Homo sapiens: one gene and its partner. The protein of the gene in region 2 purifies or fractionates together with the protein of the main gene of each other region. This does not show direct contact. Each region holds a gene or a part of one and is shown on either strand. Other genes may lie near its edges.

Region 1 (3,811 bases), on a different chromosome or scaffold from region 2:
GGGAACAAACCAGGTGTACTGCCACATGACTTCCACTTTCTAAACAGTGAATTAGCTACCCAATCAGCCACAATCCAATCCTTATCACTCAGATCTGTTTTGATCCATTTCCACACACTTCTCATTCATTTGTTCATATTTTCCTCTCCCTATTATCCTATTTCTCACTTTGGAAAGTTTGGTTTCCCACATTTGCTTCCCTAGAAAAAAGCTTATCTATTAGCAACTCTTAGAAAAATAGGATTTATGCACCCATAAAAAGGAATGAGATCATGTCCTTTGCAGGGATGTGGATGGAGTTGGAAGCCATTATCCCCAGCAAACTAATGCAGGAAGAGAAAATTAAACACTGGCTAGGCGAGGTGGCTCATGCCTGTAATCCCAGCACTTTGGGAGACCGAGACAGGCAGATCACTTGAGGTCAGGAGTTCAATACCAGCCTGGCCAACATGGCGAAACCCCGTCTCTACTGAAAATACAAAAATTAGCTGGATGTGGTGGTGTGTGCCTGTAGTCCCAGCTACTCAGGAGGCTGAGGCACAAGAATCGCTTGAACCCGGGAGATGGAGGTTGCAGTGAGCCGAGCTCTGCCACTGCACTCCAGCCTGGGTGACAGAGAAAGACTGCATCTCAAAAAAGAAGGAAAGAAAGAAATAGAAAAGAAAAGAAAAAGAAAACCAAACACCACATGTTCTCACACAGGGGAAAAACAACACACACTGGGGCCTGTGGGAGGGGAAGGGTTGCGGGAAGGAGAGCATTAGAAAGAACAGCTAATGGATGCTGGGCTTAATACCTAGGTGATGGGATGATCTGTAAAGCAAACCACCATGGGACGTTTACCTACGTAACAAACCTGCACATCCTGCATGTGTACCCCTGAACTTAAAAGTTGAAGGAAAAAAAGAAAAAAGAAAAAAAGGATTTATACAAGAAATAAAGGAAACCAAGAAACCAAGAGCCCTACTTCATTCACCCCCCAATCTAAACTCCTTCTATGTAATTCCTTTTCTTATTGTTGAACACTTGTACTAATGGGTTTGGGCAGATCAAATTTAACTTATTTCTTCCAAACCTGAGAGAGAAGCCTTCTTTGTAACAAACTAGGACTAGGAGATAGAGAAAAAAAGAATGTATATTTGAATCACTCAAAGCTCAGCTTCTGATGAAGAGCAAGACAGCTGTTAAAGCAGCAATGGACAGTCTGCCATGTGTGAAAGTGTCCCCCAAAATTCATTTGCTGAAACTTAGTTGCCAATGTGATAGTTTAAGAGGTGAGACCTTTAGGAGGTGATGGTGACTAAGTCATAAGGGCAAACCCTCATGAACGGGATTAGAGGACTGGCGACATTATAAAAGTTGTTTTTTTTGGCAGGGCGCGGTGGCTCACGCCTGTAATCCCAGCACTTTGGGAGGCTGAGGCGGGCGGATCACTTGAGGTCAAGAGTTCAAGACCAGCTTGGCCAACATGGTTAGACCCGTCTCTACTAAAAATACAAAAATTAGCTGGGCGTGGTGGCAGGCACCTATAATCCAAGCTACCTGGGAGGCTGAGGCAGGAGAATCGCTTAAACCCAGGAGGCAGAAGCTGCAGTGAGCCGAGATCGCGCCACTGCACTCCAGCCTGGGTGACAGAGCGAGAAGCCCCCCCGCCCCCGCCAAAAAAAAAGTTGTTTTTTTCGTTTGTTTGTTTGCTTTTTTTAAACTGGCTCCAACTCTCAAGCTTGACCTTACAGAATTGTGCAGGGATCTGCTTTGCCCTTCTACCATGAGGACACAGCAACAGAGAGCCAGTCCTTACGAGACAAGAAAATCTGCTGGTGCCTTAATCTTAGACTTCCCAGCCTCTACAACTGTGAGAAATAAATCTCTATTATTGATAAATTATTCAGTCTAAGGTATTTTGTTATAGCAGTCTGAATAAACTAAGGGAACACCTAATAGAAGGAAGCCATTTATCGCTGCAAATTTACTGCTGGAAACCAATGCCTGGTGTGGATCCTCTGAAATACATGTAAGATTGGGTAGGAAAAAGGGCACCATTTTATCTGCCTTTCTTTGCAGAAAACCAACTTTCTTGGCTGAGTTACTCCTCATTCTCTGTCCCCTGGGAAAATGCAACAAAAACAGCATAAAATGTTTGGTACTGAAGAAAAAAATTTACCTGTTCAGTCTTTCTCTCCCTTGATTCTGCCACTATCCTGGGTACCTTGACCACCAGTGTGGAAAACCAAACCACAAGCCGGGAACTGTAGTACTACTTCTTGACTTCAACTCCAGTGACCTTTGCCTCCCCTGCATTTCAGTCCCCTACACCCACAGCCTGGGCATCGTTACCACATAGAGCTGTTCCACGTTAGAACTCTTGACCTCTAGGAAGCTATTTGCTGACCACAAGCTCACATCTTCCCATCCCTTTCATGCCTCTCTGCACTCACACTCCACCTGCTTTTGTATTTCAGAGATCTCCAGGCCCTTGACAACACATTTTCTTTTCTTTTCCTCTTTTTTTTTTTTTTTTTTTTTTGAGACAGAGTCTCGCTCTGTCGCCTAGGCTAGAGTGCAGTGGCACAGTCTCAGCTCACTGCACACTCTGCCTCCCCAGGTTCAAGCGATTCTCCTGCCTCAGCCTCCTAAGTAGCTGGGACTACAGGTACGTGCCACCATGCCCAGCTAAGGTTATGTATTTTTCGTAGAGACGGGGTTTCTCCTTGTTAGCCAGGATGGTCTCAATCTCCTGACCTCACGCTCGGCCCACCTCGGCCTCCCAAAGTGCTGGGATTACAGGCGCGAGCCACCGCGCCTGGCCTTTGACAACACATTTTCTCTATGTTGACAACCTAATCCACTCCTTCACCAAAATTCTTAATTCTCTTGTAACTCAATCCTTCTACCGCACACACCAAGTAACCTTCCTCTCTCTAGGGAAATGTCTGTGGCTTATTACTGAATAAACTCAGAAAATCTTGCAAACTGATGTTACTCAATCCGTAGCTGCCAATTCCAATGGGGCAGGCCTTCATCAGTCCTTCTGTTGGGGTTCTCAGTCAGCACCCCTCCGATACAAACTGGCAGTACTTTCCTCAAGCCCACATCATTCATTTGCTAGCTTGCTCCCTCCCTCCCTCCCAATTCAGTCTCTAACTGGCTCTCTCAAGGACTCCAGGATCTGGTCCCATCTACTTCTCTAGCCCCTCAAACTCCCAATTTAACCTTCTCATAATCCGGAACTGCTTACGGTTCCCTATGAACACCAGTGGTCAAAAGCATGGGCTCTAGGCCCAGGTTCAAGTTCTAGTTCCAGTGTTTGAGACCTTCGGCAAGTCAAGTAACATCTTTGAAACTAGGTGTTCTCTTCTACTTTCTTGGCACACAGAGGGGTACATAATATGCCCTCAATAAAGTCAGATATTGCTATGACGCTACATCTTTGAAACTAGGTGTTCTCTTCTACTTTCTTGGCACACAGAGGGGTACATAATATGCCCTCAATAAAGTCAGATATTGCTGTGACGCTACATCTTTGAAACTAGGTGTTCTCTTCTACTTTCTTGGCACACAGAGGGGTACATAATATGCCCTCAATAAAGTCAGATATTGCTATGATGCTACTACTTGTGCTCCTCACACTGCCGGCTCTGCCTGGAATGTCCTTTCTCCCTCCTTGCAAACTTTACCTGCCCAATAACTGACATTTCTCTTTTAAGATAATTCAGATGTCATTTTAAGGAAGGTTTCAGTGAAAACCTCACTCTGACTGGGTTAAATGCCTCCTTTCTGTCTCCCAATACAGACCGTAAGCCAACCCAGA
Region 2 (3,811 bases):
AACAGCGGGCTTCCCTGTCCCTCTAGAGGGGTGACAGCTCTTTAAAATAAAGTTAAATGGCATGGCTGGGCACGGTGGCTCATGCCTGTAATCCCAACACTTTGGGAGGCCGAGGCGGGTAGATCACTTGAGATCAAGCGTTTGAGACCAGCCTGGTCAACATGGTGAAACCCCGTCTCTACTAAAAATACAAAAAAAAGTTAGCTGGGTGTGGCAGCGGGCGCCTGTAGTCCCAACTACTTGGGAGACCGAGGCAGGAGAATTGCTTGAACCAAGGAGGTGGAGGTTGCAGTGAACTGAGATCACACCACTGCACTCCATCCCGGGTGACAGAGGGAGACTCCGTCTTTCTTATCTTGGCGTTGCCCAGCCCAGTTCAGTGCACTGCAAAAAAGGGGGCACAAGGCATGAGTGTGTGTGGATGAGACACGGCCATAGTCGGATTTAGGTTCATTCTAAAAGTGATCTATCTGGATTTGGACAACGAAACAAACACCTGCCTTAAAGCAAGTAATACGCTGAGAATAAGCGATTCTGTAGCTACAAATCAAGCCGATTTCCAAACTACCTGCAAGTTGAGTGTAACTGAGCACCTGCGAATTTGTACAAAGTGCTTACATGGTGCCTGGCACACACAGTCACTGCTCCATGAAAGTGAGCCGTTTTTATCACCAACAGCATGTCATGCTTCCTGACGGAAAATCGACTTGCCGGGGTGCAGAGGGGAGGCCAAGGCAGCAGGAGCGCGCACGTGGCAGGAAGCGGACCGCTGCTGGGCACCGCAGCAGGGCTGTGGCCATGGAAACCGCTCTCCAACTGTCTCGGGCTCCACCACGGCAACCAACGCGAAATGTGAAATGTGCGTAAGGGGCTGTTCTCTCTTATTCACTTCTGACTTGAAGTATATTTAGTTTCACAAAGTCACTGTTCCCCGAGGCTAAGGCCAGCGGGCTCGGCGCTATTTTTACCTTTTCCATCTGCCAGGCGCTGCGGCTGCAGGAGCGCGCGCGGCCAGCAGAGGGCGCCCGCGCCACACCTCGCGGAGGCCTCCCCAGAGGGGCTGGAGTGGAGGCAGAGCCACAACCGGGAAGCGCACTTCAGGGAACCGCACTTAGGGTCCGATGGGAAGGAGAATGGAGACCATCAGGTCGGAAGACACTCCCCCCACTAACTGAGAACTGATGCCTGAATTCTCCTTTTCCACCAATGAGATCGAAGAAACAAGTTTCTGGACAACTAGATTCTGGCTAGGGATGACGCACGGGGAGGGGGTCCACCAGGGCTCCTCACGTGGCAACCCGAAATAATCGCCCAGGCCAGGGTTTCCAGAACAACGTTCATTTTCCGTAATTTTCTCATTTTCAATAAAGGCATAATCTTTAAATGTGAAATTGAATGAAGGTGGTCTGATTTTTTTTTAACTTTGAAATCCCTTTATATAAATGAATTCCCAAATCAGAAAAAAAGAAATCTTTTGTAGGACTCCAGTCCCAACTTTTCCATTGAGGCAGTGTTGCAATACTCCATAATCCTGTGAATGAGGACGCGCTGTTCTGCTGAACGTGAGATCCACTTAACGGACAAAGGCTATTATCTGAGATCAATTACCCACATTTCTAACACGTGTGTGCAGCCCCACACTGATCTCTAGTTCTGAATATATACAGTTAGATTACAGAGCTTTTAAAAAATGTACTTCCATACCCAGCTGACCATATTCAGGGCACCCAAAGGAATAGAGGTTTCCTTTGCAGTCCATTATCATACTGAATTCAGCCCCACAGGCCATTTTGGTAATTGGCTGGCCGTTGTACATTATCTGAAAAGACAAGAAAGGAGACTTTCATTTTTTTTAAAGACTGATAAAAAGCCTCTACCTCTCTGCATGTTGGTGGGAAACAATTACTAGGTTACAAACGGAAGTTTAATAAACTCAGTAATTCTGAAGGCAAAAGCTGAAGGCATTTCTAGAACACAAAGCTTAGAAGATATGTAAAGAAGCACCCTCAGACCCCCACCCTCCCAGCACAGAGCAGTTCAAAGCCTAGCCACTGTCTCTTTAAGATCAATAAAACCAAGTCCCTCCCTTCCTTCATCACCTAGACCACTAATTAGGCACTTAGCATTCTTCTGCCTTTAGTAGTAGTTTGTTTTTAAGGTATAAATCTCACCCCTCCAACTCAAGTTTCTTAGAAAAAAAAAGACTGCCTATCTCCTGGGCGCGGTGGCTCACACCCAGCACTTTGGGAGGCCGAGGCAGGCAGATCAGGAAGTCAAGAGATGGAGACCATCCTGGCCAACATGGTGAAACCCCATCTCTACTAAAAATACAAAAATTAGCCAGGCGTGGTGGAGCATGCCTGTAGTCCCAGCTACTCGGGAGGCTGAGGCAGGAGAATCGCTTGAATCCGGGAGGCAGAGGTTGCAGTGAGCTGAGATCGCGCCACTGCACTCTAGCCTGGCAACAGAGCGAGACTCTGTCTCCCCTCCAAAAAAAAAAGACTGCCTATCTCGTATTTGTATTCTAAGCATCTGGCTGGTGACTTTATACAAGGTCAAAACAAAGTATTTGGGGGAAGTACAATTACATCCATATAACATCACTCACTTTCTTTGGAACAGAACAGGCTTACGACAAGGCATTTCTAACAGATTTCTCCATTTGGAAACAAAATGTTTTCAGGATGGTTTTCAACCCGACCACAAACTAAGCCTGTTTTAAAAACTATAGCAAGGCTGTGTGCAGTGGCTCACACCTGTAATCCCAGTACTTTGGGAGGCCGAGGTGGGTGGATCACCTGAGGTCAGGAGTTCCAGACCAGCCTGACCAACATGGAGAAACCCCGTCTCTACTAAAAATACAAAATTAGCCAGGTGTGGTGGCACATGCCTGTAATCCCAGCTACTCCAGAGGCTGAGGCCGGGGAATCACTTGAACCCGGGAGGCGGAGGTTGCAGTGAGCCGAGATTGCGCCATTGCACTCCAGCCTGGGCAAAAAGAGTGAAACTCCGTTCTCAAAAAAAAACAAAAAACAAAAAAACAAACAAAAAAACTCTACAGCATGTAACTAAACATCCAGACCCTGTTTTTACAAGGGGTAAATTAACTCAAACGGAGACCCCACCTTAGAAAATCAAACACAAAAGTAAAGAGAAACAAAAAGCCATGGAGCCGGAGCTGAGGAGGGGTCACCTGCGCGGGGCTGGGAACAGCGTCTGTCTGGTTGCCAAGGCCCAGCTGCCCCATCTTGTTTTCCCCAAACGCAAACACGGAGCCCGTTTCTGGAAGAAAGGAAAAATATCACAAAAGGGAAGATAATGGTGAATGTTTTGAACTAGATTTAGAATCAAAGGCATCAAAATAATAAAAACAGCTCATTTGCCAGGCAGAAGGCAAGTGAGACTGCCCAAAAGCTGGCAGTGCAGACGCTTCACAGCAAAGCCATTTCACATCAGAAACTGGGTGTGCAGAGAAACAGAGGGCAGCGTCTCCTACTCCCAGATGGGCCTCCTATGGCCACTGGGGAGGCTCCCAATGCCCTCAAGAAGCCACTCCATGCCAAGGTTCTCAGGGCCTCTTTCTGATCCTGACCAAGAGTCACAAGGGGAACTCCACCACCCCACGCCCCATCCCCAAGGCAGACCACCTGGCCTCTTGCCAAACTGAGAGGAGACACCAGCAGCCACCTCCTTACCCGTCAAGGCCAAGGTGTGGTTCCGCCCACATGCTGCAGACACAATCACTTCGTGGCTAAGACCCTCGATGAGTCTAGGGGCTTCTACTCTCTTGGTGTCACCATGTCCCAGCTGC

The links.
Region 1: the proteins of RCC2 (region 2) and PAK1IP1 purify together in Homo sapiens (affinity purification with mass spectrometry, with the first as the bait; one study listed by BioGRID). This does not show direct contact.

What each region holds. Positions count from the first base shown.
Region 1 is NC_000006.12:10,697,917-10,701,727, reverse strand, and holds part of PAK1IP1 (p21-activated protein kinase-interacting protein 1), read right to left. Parts: intron 1-3,811. UniProt on the Homo sapiens protein: Negatively regulates the PAK1 kinase. PAK1 is a member of the PAK kinase family, which has been shown to play a positive role in the regulation of signaling pathways involving MAPK8 and RELA.
Region 2 is NC_000001.11:17,419,010-17,422,820, forward strand, and holds part of RCC2 (protein RCC2), read right to left. Parts: coding exon 3,696-3,811; intron 3,283-3,695; coding exon 3,194-3,282; intron 1,820-3,193; coding exon 1,705-1,819; intron 1-1,704. UniProt on the Homo sapiens protein: Multifunctional protein that may affect its functions by regulating the activity of small GTPases, such as RAC1 and RALA. Required for normal progress through the cell cycle, both during interphase and during mitosis.